Homo sapiens: one gene and its partners. The protein of the gene in region 4 purifies or fractionates together with the protein of the main gene of each other region. This does not show direct contact. Each region holds a gene or a part of one and is shown on either strand. Other genes may lie near its edges.

Region 1 (3,500 bases), on a different chromosome or scaffold from region 4:
CCATGAGTTAATGATTGTTGAACAGGGTACTGGGTATATGGGACTCACCAGGGGTATTGGGTGTATGGAATTTCCCATAATAAAATATTCTTTCAGTGTTTGTAGAATGGAAGCATGTATGTATATAAACAAATGTATATATACAAATGTTTGTTTTAAATGATAGACTAAAAATGTTAGAAATTCTAATCCCAAGCATTTATTGCTTTTTAAAAAGGGAACTGTACATGATCAGATCATGGAAGGATAGCTCCACTCCTCCCCGACCTTGGTCACAGGCCGCCATGAGGAGGGACTGCTCCAGTCCTCCGGTGGCCACTGCCATCTTCCTCATCACTGTCCTTAGCTTTGGAGTACACAACTCCAAGTGGCCCGAGTCTAGACTCTATCAAATTCCACACTGATAGCAACAATGACTGCATCTGATGTGTGCTGCTGGCAATCTTAAGCCCAAAATGCTTCAAAGATTAAACAGCCATATACATTTAAAATACATAGAAAAATAATATAATTAGAATGTATACAAAGTAGATTACAAAACAACTTCACTACAAGAAATACATCTTATATCCAAGCACAAAAATGTGGAAATATACATGAAAGGATATACGTTTAAGAAACCACATTTTTATTTCTAAATGCTGAGTGAGAAGGCATGGACTACTAAATTCTGGATTACTGATAAAATTTCAAAAAGAACTTGATTTTGCTAGCAGAAATTTTTACCCCATTCTCAAGCTTCTATAAACAGTTCTTGAAGGGATTAGACAGCTGTTCCTCTTTCCAAATTCTGTTTAATTTCAGCTGTGTATTTCCCATAGAATCTTTCAGCTTTCTTGTTGAATTTGGCATTCCTTTCATTAATGTAGTCGATATCTGCATCATCATTATAAGGACGTCTCCGGCTATATTTGTCTCGTTTTTCAATCCTGGGGAAAGAAGAAAATTTACAAAATTCAAAATTGCCTTCTCTTTTGATCTTAATAAAACACAACCAAACAGGAATATAATCACGTTTAGAATAGCACATGTTGTGAGGGCTAGAGGAAGCCAGGAGAGTTTTCATCAAGTTAAAGTTGAAACTGAATTAATGGCACAACTCAGAATATGAACTGTGAAATCCAGTAAATACAAATTCATCTTCAGAATGCTAGAGCGATGACTCATTGTTGGGAACTTGACTGTACTGAAGAAGATAACTATTGGCTGGGCATGGCGGCTGTAATCCCATGCCTGTAATCCCACTACTTTTGGAGGACAAGGCCTCCCAAAAGGTCCTCTGGGAGGATCACTTGAGCCCAGGAGTTCCAGACCAGGGCCTGGACAACATAGGAAGACTCCATCACTATAAAAAAAATTTTTTTGAATACATTTTCTAAAAAAGAAGATAACTATAACAATATTAAATAGGCCAGGCGCAGTGGCTCATGCCTGTAACCCCAGCACTTTGGGAGGCCAAGGCAGGTAGATCACCTGAGGCCAGGAGTTTGAGACCAGCCTGGTCAACATGACGAAACCCCGTCTCTACTAAAAATACAAAAATTAGCCAGGAGTGGTGGTACACGCCTGTGGTCCCATTTACTCAGGAGGCTGAGGCAAGAGAATCGCTTGAAACTGGCAGGTGGAGGTTGTGGTGAGCCAAGATCGTGACACTGCGCTCCAGCCTGGGCAATAGAGTGAGACTCCGTCTCAAAAAAAAAAAATTATATTAAATAATAACCACAGCTAATACTGAGCACATAATATGTGCCAGACACTTTTTTTTTTTCCTGAGACAGGGTCTCGCTCTGTCGCCCAAGCTGGAGTGCAGTGATGCAATCACAGTTCACTGCACCCTCCACTTCTTGGACTCAAGTGATCCTCCTGACTGAGTCTCCCAAGTAGCTAGGACTACAGGCACGTACCACCATGCCCAGCTAATTCCTGTATATTTTTTGTAGAGAAAGGGTTTTGCCATGTTGCCCAGGCTGTTCTCAAAGTCCTGGGCTCAAGCAATCCTTCTGCCTCAGCCTCCCAAAGTGCTAGGATTATAGGCAGGAGCCACCACGCCCAGCCCAGACACTATTCTTAATACTTTTCATGTATTAACTCCTAAAATATATTTTCATTCTGCTCTACCTAATAGTCGCCTCTATCAGTATTAAGAAACACAAACCTAAGCGAGGAACATTTACTACAACATTCTTGCTTCTTCAAATCAAACAGGGGAGTGGTTAAAGTAAAATCCTTAAAGAAGGATCATTTTTTTTAGACCTTTCCCCTTCAATATTAACAATTCAGTTTCATCAACATTCTTCATCTCCATTCCAAATCAGATATATTCAACCCACACTTGCTATCCATCCCCAAGCCACTATAGACAGGTCAAAAATTAGCAAGTATAACTGTACAATTTCTATCTTTTGAATTCATTCTAAGCACGTCAGATATAGGTGCATATTCTAAGTGCATTTTGTCATGAAGTATTTACAACGTCAAGCTGCTCTACTGAATACTTACTGTTTTTCCAGATCTATGACCATCCTGTCAATTTCCTCTGTGGAAGGCACATGTGTTCCATGAAGAAGACTATTGGATGTTGGGAAAAACTCTTCTCCACTGAAAAGGCAGCAAAATGAACTTACAGTAACACTATAAATGCTCCATTTTCAAATTTCAAACTAAAGTACCATACATGATAAGAAAGTATACACATACATTTACTGTGAGATCCTACTTTAATTTTTTTTTAAAAAAACATACAGGCTGGGTGCAGTGGCTCACATCTGTAATCCCAGCACTTTGGGAGGCCAAGGCAGGCGGATCGTTTGAGGTCAGGAGTTCAAGACCAGCCTGGCCAACATGGCAAAACCCAGTAGAGACTGAAAATATAAAAATTAGCCGGGCGTGGTGACACACACCTGTAGTCCCAGCTACTTGGGAGGCTGAGGCAGGAGAAGCACTTGAACCCGGGAGGTGGAGGCTGCAGCGAGCCAAGATCGCCCCACTGTGCTCCAGCTTGGGCGACAAAGTAAGACTCCGTCTCAAAAAAAAAAATTTTTTTTAATTAAAAGAATTAAAATAGGACCATGTGGAGGCCAGGCGCAGTGGCTCACGCCTGTAATCCCAGCACTTTGGGAGGCTGAGGTGGGCGGATCACAAGGTCAGGAGTTTGAGACCAGCCTGGCCAACATGGTGATACCCCATCTCTACTAAAAATACAAAAATTAGCTGGGCGTGGTGGCAGATGCCTGTAATCCCAGCTACTTGGGAGGCTGAGGCAGGAGAATTGCTTGAACCCGGGAGGCGGAGGTTGCAGTGAGCCGAGATCACGCCACTGCACTCTAGCCCAGGCGACAGTGCAAGACTCTGTCTCAAAAAAAAAAAAATAGGGCCATGTGCAGTGGCTCACACCAATAATCCCAGCACTTTGGGAGGCCAAGGTGGGCACATCACCTGAGGTCAGGAGTTCAAGACCAGCCTGGCCAACATGGTGAAACCCCATCTCTACTAAAAATACA
Region 2 (3,500 bases), on a different chromosome or scaffold from region 4:
AGAGCCCCAGCTGGGTCCTAATACCCCAGGAGCCTTCTGGCTTCTTCACTTTGGGCCTGCAGGGTCTCGCTTGCATACTTCTGGAGGAGTTCCATTTTCTTCCTTCGCACCAGTGCCTCCTCAATCTGTGGAAATTAAGAGTGCAGGGCTCACTCCTCAGCAAAGCCCCTCAACCCCTGCCAGACCCAGCCAGGAGGAAGTCCCCGTGGGAGAAGTCCATCAAGGAGTCTGATTTAAATACGCAGAATAGTCTCCAAGAGTCCTAACTCCCTCCCATTGGAAACATTTGAACGATAGAATGGCCTAGAGCAGAGGGTCCTGCCCTTTTTGGACCCCACACCCTGAACACAATGACAGGTGTCATGTGGTCAGGACCCTGAGCTGCCCTGATGGGTAGGAAGGACAACGAAAACCCACTACAGTGCTCTGTGAAGTCTGCTTTAGAGAAGCCCCCGGCGCCCAGGCAGCTCTTAGCTGTGGTCCTACCTCTTGCTGCGAGGGAACAGGGACGTGAGCAATGAACTTCTGCTGGCTGTCGTCCCCTCCTTTCTCCTGGCTGCCTTCCTCGTCCGACTACAAACAGAACAAACGAAAGTCCATCAGTAGGCGCCCAGCTAGATAAATGCTGGCAACTCTATAAAACACACTACTCTGCAACTATTTAAAAGAAAAAAAAACTAAGAAAGTTCTATACTTATAGAAAGACACTTGACCCACAAGATTAAGTAAAAAAAGCCATAGAACACGCTGTATATTATGCTACCTTTTGTCTAAGGAGGAAATAAGAATAGAAATTACTGACGGCAGTGAGACCAAGGTAGATGAGGGACAGGGTGAGGAAAGAGAATCTTTGTGGAATATCTTTATATTCTTTTTCACTTTTGAACCTTGTGAATGTATCACTATTTTAAAAAATTTAAATGTAAAAGAATGTACCATGCATAGAAAAATAATCAGCTCAGAGGTTGCCTATGAGTCAATACAAATTTCTAATAACAAAGAAAACACCACGGACTTGGAAAGAGAGAAGGGGTCTTGTGGCGAGTCAGGAGTCCACTGTTTGCTGGGCTCTGCCAGACACCGTGCACGACCCATTCCCTGACTGGCTCCCAGTGGGGATGGCTTCAAAAGCCTCTTGAGGAACCTCTCATCCACTGCTGGCACTTGGAGAAACTGGTTGTATCTAACACTAAACACATACCTACCCTGATCTGGTGGTTCCACTCCTCAGCATGTACTCAAGAGAAACACTGCACGGGAACAAGAAAATTCCCAGCAACCCTATCTGCCAAAACCCCAATCTGGACACAACACAAATACCCACAAACATTAGACACAAAAGAGTACACACGACTCACATATGTAAAGTTCAGACACAAGTGAAATATATGGGTCACAAGAGGTCAGGAGGGTGACCCCTGAGGCAGTAGTGAGCTTCTGGCGCTGTGGTCCTGTTCTGTTTCTTCACTGGTATTTGCTATGTGTGTGTGTGTTCACCCTGTGAAAATCCAGTGACCTACACATTTAGCAGGTGTGTACTTTTCTGTATATGGAACAACACTCAGCAGTGAAAAGGAATGAACTATTGAACTCAACAACCAGAGGGATGGCAAGGGCATCATGTTAAGTGTCAAGGCCATCGTGAAAGGTGACTCACAGCATGATCCCATTTATAAAACATTCTGAAATGACAAAATCAGAGATGGAGAACAGGTTAGGGTTCAGCTAGGAGAAGAGATGGTGAGGACAGGGAGGTGTGAACTGTGAAGGGGTGGCACCAGGGATCTTTGTAGTAAGGGGACAGTTCCCAGGCTGGAGTGCAGTGGTGCAATCACAGCTCACTGTAATCTGAACCCCCTGAGCTCAAGCAATTCTCACACCTCAGCCTCCTGAGTAGCTGGGACTATAGGCATGTCCAACCACACCTAGCTAATTGTTTTTATTTTTGGTAGAAACAGGGCCTCATTGTGTTGCCAGACTGGTCTTGAACTCCTGAGTTCAAGCAATCCTCCCACCTCAGCCTCCCAAAGTATTAGGATTACAGGTGTGACCACCACCCCCGGCCAGTTCTGTATCTGGATTGTCATGATGGCCACATGGATCTCCACACATGGAGACAAATGACACAGAACTCCACACACTCAATATGCCAATGTCAACCTCCCAGTTTTACTACTGTGCTAGAACTACATGAGATACAACCACTGGGGGGAACTGGGTGAAGCATACACAAGATCTCTCTGTACTCTTTGCAACTTCCTGTATCTCTATAATTATTTGAAAAGAAAAAAAAATTCTGCTGTGGGTTTCCACTGCTCTTCCCCACAACGCCAGCTCCCCATCAGCCTCCACTCACACCCAGCACCCACTCTCTGCACTCCAGCACACTGGGCTGTCCTTTGTCTCTCACACTCATCACAGGATCTCTCAGCACATGATGCGCCCCTGCTGGGAGCCCTCTCTCATCTCCTCCTTCCTTGGTTAAGTTCGCTGGATCATCCTAATCTCAGCTGAGGGTTTAGCTTCCCAGCAGAGTGTCTGCAGGCTGTCCCTGCACCAGGCTCTATTGAGGGACTGTTGCTCACTGTCTCTCTTACTGGACTGCCTCCCCCTGGACTATGAGCTACACTCCAAGCCTCTGTACCACCATGCCCCTGCACCTGGAATGCGGCTGGCTCACAGGAGCCATGAATTAAACACCTGCTGAGAGAGCAAATGAATATTTGTACCTAGAGGAAATCCTCCTAAGGCATGCTGCCATCCTGCTTCAGACCTGCACTGAACCCCAGTGCTGGCCCAGCTGGACATGAGCAGGAACGTCAGGCCTGTTATATCCCATGTGACATTAAGTCACTAAACCTGAGCCTGCTTCTTCACCAGTGATGTCTCAGCAAGCTCCTCATGTGGAACCTGAGCCATCATCCATGTGTGGGTGATCCCCTCCCTTCTCTCAGTCCAGCAAATCAGATCCACCTAGACCTGTGCAGGCAGCAAGGACTCCAAATATAGGGCCCCGCAGAAGAGCTCTGCCTGGGAGGCAGAGATTTCAAATGTTGAATTTTCCTTGTTTCAGAATACCTCCTTTAATGCAGTGAAGTTTTGGTAATGTTTCATAGAAAAAATAAAAGGTGTAGCACAGACAGATATGTCAAGATTACTTACATGGTGGCTATAATAAAAAGTAATAACTAAGATATATAATGAGTATTTCCTATAAATCAGAAAATATGCAAAAGATCAGAAAATATGCAAAAGGTCTGAAAATATGCAAAGATTCCCCAACCATGACCCTCTAAGAAAGTTTCTTCTCTGCTCTGCGTTTCTTTCCATGTGTAAGACAGGGGTGTTAGGGCTGGGAGCAATGGTTCACACCTGTCATCCCAGCACTTTGGGAGGCCAAGGCAGGTGGATCACAAGGTCAGGAGTTCGAGACCAGCCTGGCCAATATGGTGAAACCCCGTCTCTACTAAAAATACAAAAATTAGCCATGCGTGGTGGCA
Region 3 (3,500 bases), on a different chromosome or scaffold from region 4:
TGGACAGAGAAGAGAGCCTCCTAATTCTCAGTTCTAATCCACTCCTGAGGCCCATTTCAAGATTGCTTTCCTGCCATTGTCATCCAGGAGGCACCACTACATCTTAATGATAAACTGTCCTGGTTTACATTACTTACAATTAAATAATCCTAATACAGCCTCTGTCCCAGGCAAAAATCGAAGTGCTTCACCTTGAAGCACTGAACCTGGTAATGCTCACAACAGGCACAAGGAATATACTGAAAGAGTAAAGCAAAAGTTTATTCTCAATATGAAAGATATTTTTCTGTCATTTCCTTAGAATGTTCCTGTCCCCAAAACTGCTTCAAACTTCTTCCTTCTTCTCAAACCATACTGTACTCCCTTAAGTAACAGTCCCAGAGATAACATCCCTCCCCTCTTTTTAACTTTACCAAGAAGATTTTAGGTAACCTCTTTTAGGCTCTTTCATTTTTTTTCTTTTTTTTTTTCATTTACCATTTTCTCATTACCCAGACTTCCCTCTGAAATGGATTATGAAGCTATAAGGTTTTAAAACTCACTTTATCACATTATTAGATGGAGTAAAAACTACCTATTTCCTTTTGCTCTAAACCCATGCTAGGCCAGGCATGGTGGCTCACGCCTGTAATCCCCTGGGAGGCCAAGGCGGGTGGATCACCTGAGATCAGGAGTTCAAGACCAGCCAGGCCAATATGGTAAGACCCTGTCTCTACTAAACATACAAAAATTAGCTGGGCTTGGTGGCGCACACCTGTAGTCCCAGCTACTCAGGAGGCTGAGGCAGGAGAATCGCTTGAACCCAGGAGGCAGAAGCTGCAGTGAGGTGAAATCGCCCCACTGCACTCCAGCCTGAGCAACAGAACGAGATTCCACCTCAAAAACAAAACAAATTTACCCATGCTAAACCAATGGCTGTTAATGGACTAAAAACAAAAGCACAAAAGGTCTACTACATCAGATATGCTCAGATAATGAATGATTCCTACAAATTTTAGGATTCAATGTTTCATTAAATTCACAAGTATTTGCTTATGATTGAGCAAACACAAGCCGAAAGCATGGTGATATGTGAATGTCAGTGGTCACATGTTACCCTTCCAGACATCTCTATATAGATGTTAAATAACCTTTTTCAAGGCTCCACTCATGCCTTCAATTTCATTTACTACTACTTCAGGAAACCTGCTCACAATTATTACCCACTTCACCTTAAACCTGGTCAGGCTCTCCCTCTCCTCTTCTACAAAGAGGGACAGGCTTCTCTTCATCAAAAGAGCTTTCCCACTTGACTCCATTGGTCCCTCTAGTTATTGCCTAGTCTCTCTCTGCCAAACTTCCCAAGGAAGCAGTGTGGACCTGCTGCCCTCTACTTCCTCTCCAACTTTTGTGCCTTGACCCTACAAACAGCCTTTGATTTCACCCAACCTAACCCAATGGCTGCAGCCACGGCTAATTCATATATGATAGCATCATCAAGCAATTTAGCAAAAGATGTTCCTTCTTCCAAACATCTCTGAGGGCACTGGGTCTGGCTGGTGGGCCACTCCCATCCATCCTGTCAGAAGCCCTCAAGAGAAACGCTGGGCAATCTTGCCAATAGCCCCTCCTTGGTCCTCACTTTTCCTGACTTTTCTTGTACTAGTTCACACAAGCGACCATCATCTTCCTGAAACATTCTTCTCTTTTCCTCTTTGGCCTTCCTGATTCTTTTATCTCTTTGGTAAATCCCTTCCTCTACATGTAGGCTTACTAGAGTAGAAGTCTTTGGTCTTCAGGAATTTTTCCTTTATATACGGCTCCCTCATCAATTCCATTCACCTTTAATTATCACCGCAATAAGCACCACCCCCAAATCTACATCTCTAGGTATTCACTGACTACTTCCACTCAAATTCAAATTAAAAAGAGAACTCATTATTTTAAGAATATCAGAAAAATGGGGTTCTCAAGTCAATACCGTGGTTATTTTGAAGTTAATTGTCTCTGCCTACTATAGAGGGTTGAAGGTAGGAAGAGTTCTGGATTGCCAATTAATGACAGACCTTCATTTCAGTGTTACCAATGACAACCTACAATACAATCAGACTCCGCCTTCAGAGGACATTAATTGGAGTTATCTAGTGAGTGGAGTATCAGAATTCAATGAGGATAGAAGGATGGAAGAGGTCAGAGATGGCTTCATCAACTTCACACTTGTTTCAATTTCTAAACCCAACAATAAATGGCAACTAATATGGTTTGACTATGTCTCCATCCAAATGTCAACTTGAATTTTATCTCCCAGAATTCCTACGTGTTGTGGAAGGGACCCAGGAGGAGGTAACTAAATCATGGGGGCTGGTCTTTCCCGTGCCATTCTCATGACAGTGAATAAGTCTCACGAGATCTGATGGGTTTATCAGGGGTTTCCGCTTTTGCTTCCTCCTCATTTTCTCTTGCTGCCGCCATGTAAAAAGTGCCTTTCACCTCCTGCCATGATTCTGAGGCCTCCGCAGCCACGTGGAACTGTAAGTCCAATTAAACCTCTTTTTCTTCCCAGTCTTGGGTATGTCTTTATCAGCAGCATGAAAACAGACTTAATACAACAACCATGACAACAGGCCTTTCTCAGTTGTCACTTATCCTGACCTTTCTTTTACTCTCATCATATATAGTTGGTCTCAAGAATTCTGAGGAAAATAAGGCAGTTTCCTAGACTCCAAAATAACCAGTTCTCCTAAAAACATTCCTCCTTCCACTTGCCTTCTCTATTCCTATATATAATTATTCATAACCAAGACACCCTATGGTTTGAGTGTCCTCTCCAAAACTCATGTTGAAATTTAATTGCCATTGTAACGTTATTAACAGGTGGGGCCCTTAAATGGCAGTTACAACATGAGAAGGTGAATGCCATTATCCCAGGCTCCTGATAAAAGGATGAGTTTGGCAGGATATTCTCTCTCTGTCTTGGAGACTCACCTGCCCTTCTACCATGTTATGACAACATAAAGGCCCTTAGTAGATGCCTGTGCCATGCTCTTGGCCCTCCCAGACTCCAGAACTGTCAACCAAATAAACTTCTATTGTTTATAAATTACCTAGTCTGTAGTATTGTTACAGGAGCAGAAAATGGATTAAGACACTCCAGGACAAAAGTTCAAATTTGACTCTTTCTTTTAAATCCAATATGGCAAAGTGTATATTAAGCCTATCAATTCTTCCCTTGGAATGGTTCTCAAATCATTCTTTCTTTCCACTTCTCCCCCTAAAACAACAGAAAACATTTTTAACTCATCCAGAATTTCCTACTAAATCAGTAGAAGCCTTTACTCTTGCTCAACTGTGAGACCTTTTTAAACCCACTATTAATGGATCAAAGCTGGCCCTTGAGTTTAAACTGCTTTAGGCCTCCAATCTCTCCTCATGCTGCATGTTAATACCAGGCTAAAGTTTCAAAACGCATTTATCATGTCACCATCTTGGCAAGCCACTGTAGCAAATGTAAACCCTTACTG
Region 4 (2,406 bases):
GAGGAGGCAGGGGGCGTGCACTTACCCCAGCGCCCAGCAAGCAGCCAGCAAGTGTGAGTCACTACAAGAGTGGCCAGGCTGCCTGCTGCAGACACTAGCTTTGTACCAGGAGCTTGCTGTGTGCCCCTCCTCACCCCCCCCATCCTGTCTCTTTGCAGTTATGAATACTACGTCGATGACCCTCCCCGCATAGTCCTGGACAAGCTGGAACGCAGGGGCTTCCGTGTGCTGAGCATGACGGGGGTGGGCCAGACGCTGGTGTGGTGTCTGCACAAGGAGTGACCTTCTCATGCTGATTTGCAGACGGGGCACCCCTGTGGAGGGGCTGCTGTGGGCCCTGACCTCCAAGCTCCTGCCTCACCGTCTGCCTTGCTCCTCTCTTCCCAAATCATCACCGCCATGGGCCCAGCCCCAAAGGGCAGTGAATGGCCTTCTCTGAAACCCTGCGTCAAGCAGTGGGAGAGGGCAGTGCCCGGTGCCCTGGTGCTCCCAGCTGCCCTCCTGCTTCGGGCCTGGGCCGAGGGCCTTGTGTAGGCCATGTTCCTCGGGCAGCTGCCCCGGGCCGGAGCTGGGCACTCCAGCGGCCCTGGCGCGTGGCTCCTGCATAGCTAGCCCAAGCCAATAAAGGGCTGTGATGAGTGGCTGCGCCTGTGCTCTGCTTGTGCACGGACTCTGGGACTCTCACCCTGCGGAGCGTTTCCCTGGGGGTCTGCCCACTTCCTGGGAGGGGCGCCAGGCCTGGGTGGAGCGCTCTGCGGCAGAGCCCAGCACCTTATACCTATGTATGGGATAGAGGTAAAATCTTAAAAAAAAAAAAAATTTATTGGTGACGTTGAAGAAAAGGGCTGAGGGGTGGATGGCTGGAGCTGGGGCTACGTAGGCGGCCCCTCCTGGTCTTCCTGCTGCATCCGTGCGATCAGCTGTTGCCGCTCGGCCGCCTGGCGCATGCGCATCATGACGAGGCTCTCGTAGTCCCTCTCTGACAGCACTGAGCCCTGTCGGACAGGGCAGGGACAGGGAGGGGTCAGGGACAGCAGGGCACAGCCTCACAGACTCCGAGTACGGTGCCGAGGCAGTGCTGCGTTCTAAGAGTCTCGGAGGGAGGACGGCAGAGGAAGGGAAGGAACCCGGAGCATCCTTTTGGAATCCTGGCTCGCCTGTGTCCCCCAGAACACGCCACCTTTGGCCTCCAGGCCGGCTTCTACCCAGCCAGCTCCCCCTCCCTTTCCCCAGGCCGCGTCAGCTCCGGTCCATCTGTTTCTCAGGAATCACCTGCGGGCCCTCTAAGCCAGGCCCTCGTCTCCCTTCATTTCCTCTGGGCCCTTTACCCTTCACCCCTTTCCCTCTACCCCGTAGCTTCTGCCTCTTAGGTTCCCAAGGAAGGGAAGTTGTCTGAGGAGCAGGGATGCACTTGGCTCTGCTGGGCACTGACCCTGGCACTCTCTATGCCCGGTGCCCTGTGGTCTGGCTCTTGCTGAGGATGCAGAAGGGAGCCCTACCCGAGGCAGCCCGGAATGCCCCACCCTCGAAGGGGAAAAAGGCAAGCATGAGGCCAGCGTGCCTCTAAAACTACACACCAGGGCTCCTGGAGGGCAGGGCCCATAATCAAAAGAATAATAAACAACCATCTGAATGGGCCAAGGCTGTAGGGTGGAGAAGCAGCTCTACAGCGGGACCTAAGCTGCCAACCCACGCCCTGATAAGGTCTGCGGTGGGAATTAAACCTTTTCCTCCCTCGGTGCCGCTTAGGCTGTGTGATGATCATGTGGTCCCAACAGCTTCTCAGAGAAGTGTGAAGCACACCTGAGTTGGCACAGAAGTGAGCTAGGCCAGGGATTGCAAGATGCGGTGGCCTGCCCGTAGCAGAGAGCTGTGGGGCCCTGATCCGCGGTACCCCGCATGGGGACGCTGTCACAGAGCAAGGCAGGAGGAAAATGTGGTGGTCAGTGACCCGGGGAATAGGAAGGGAGCAGCTAGGGTTGAGATGCCAGGCCCTGGCCAGCAGGTTTGGAGTAAGGGGTGTAGAGAAACAGGAAGTGTTACTCAGCCTGGGTTCCCCTGTTCCTCCCGATGGCTGCACCCCTCCCCTCTCCCCGGCTGCAGCAGTCCCAGCTAGGCCGGACTGCTAAGCCTGGCCCAGAGCACGGCTGACAATTCACGGCAGCCTCCCTGGCCCAGCCTCCTGCAAGAGAAGGAGGACCCCAGAGGAAGCCCGGTAGCCAGAGGGGAAGGGCTGGAGCACAGCCAGGTAGGAGGCAACACGGCCCGGCCTTCAGCAGCCGCTCTCCTGGCAGGAGCCCTCTAGGGTAAAACAAGGGAGGACAAGGAAATAGCAGCCAGGCTGATGGCAGGCCAAGAGGAGGCCACATCTCCCATCCCCAGGTTAATGCTGCTCTGCCAAGAAAA

What was found. Proteins that work in one complex are often made in the same cells at the same time.
Region 1: the proteins of DNAJC17 (region 4) and SYF2 purify together in Homo sapiens (affinity purification with mass spectrometry; one large-scale study listed by BioGRID and IntAct). This does not show direct contact.
Region 2: the proteins of DNAJC17 (region 4) and ISY1 purify together in Homo sapiens (affinity purification with mass spectrometry, with the first as the bait; 2 studies listed by BioGRID). This does not show direct contact.
Region 3: the proteins of DNAJC17 (region 4) and PAXBP1 purify together in Homo sapiens (affinity purification with mass spectrometry, with the first as the bait; one large-scale study listed by BioGRID). This does not show direct contact.

What each region holds. Positions count from the first base shown.
Region 1 is NC_000001.11:25,222,503-25,226,002, forward strand, and holds part of SYF2 (pre-mRNA-splicing factor SYF2), read right to left. Parts: intron 2,599-3,500; coding exon 2,500-2,598; intron 930-2,499; coding exon 764-929; 3' UTR 1-763. UniProt on the Homo sapiens protein: Involved in pre-mRNA splicing as component of the spliceosome.
Region 2 is NC_000003.12:129,130,064-129,133,563, forward strand, and holds part of ISY1 (pre-mRNA-splicing factor ISY1 homolog), read right to left. Parts: intron 574-3,500; coding exon 487-573; intron 126-486; coding exon 18-125; 3' UTR 1-17. Other genes in the region: ISY1-RAB43 protein, read right to left, coding at 25-125, 487-573. UniProt on the Homo sapiens protein: Component of the spliceosome C complex required for the selective processing of microRNAs during embryonic stem cell differentiation. Required for the biogenesis of all miRNAs from the pri-miR-17-92 primary transcript except miR-92a.
Region 3 is NC_000021.9:32,765,256-32,768,755, forward strand, and holds part of PAXBP1 (PAX3- and PAX7-binding protein 1), read right to left. Parts: intron 1-3,500. UniProt on the Homo sapiens protein: Adapter protein linking the transcription factors PAX3 and PAX7 to the histone methylation machinery and involved in myogenesis.
Region 4 is NC_000015.10:40,767,068-40,769,473, forward strand, and holds part of DNAJC17 (dnaJ homolog subfamily C member 17), read right to left. Parts: intron 996-2,406; coding exon 873-995; 3' UTR 283-872; coding exon of another isoform or gene 159-282; 3' UTR 1-158. Other genes in the region: GCHFR (GTP cyclohydrolase 1 feedback regulatory protein), read left to right, coding at 159-282. UniProt on the Homo sapiens protein: May negatively affect PAX8-induced thyroglobulin/TG transcription.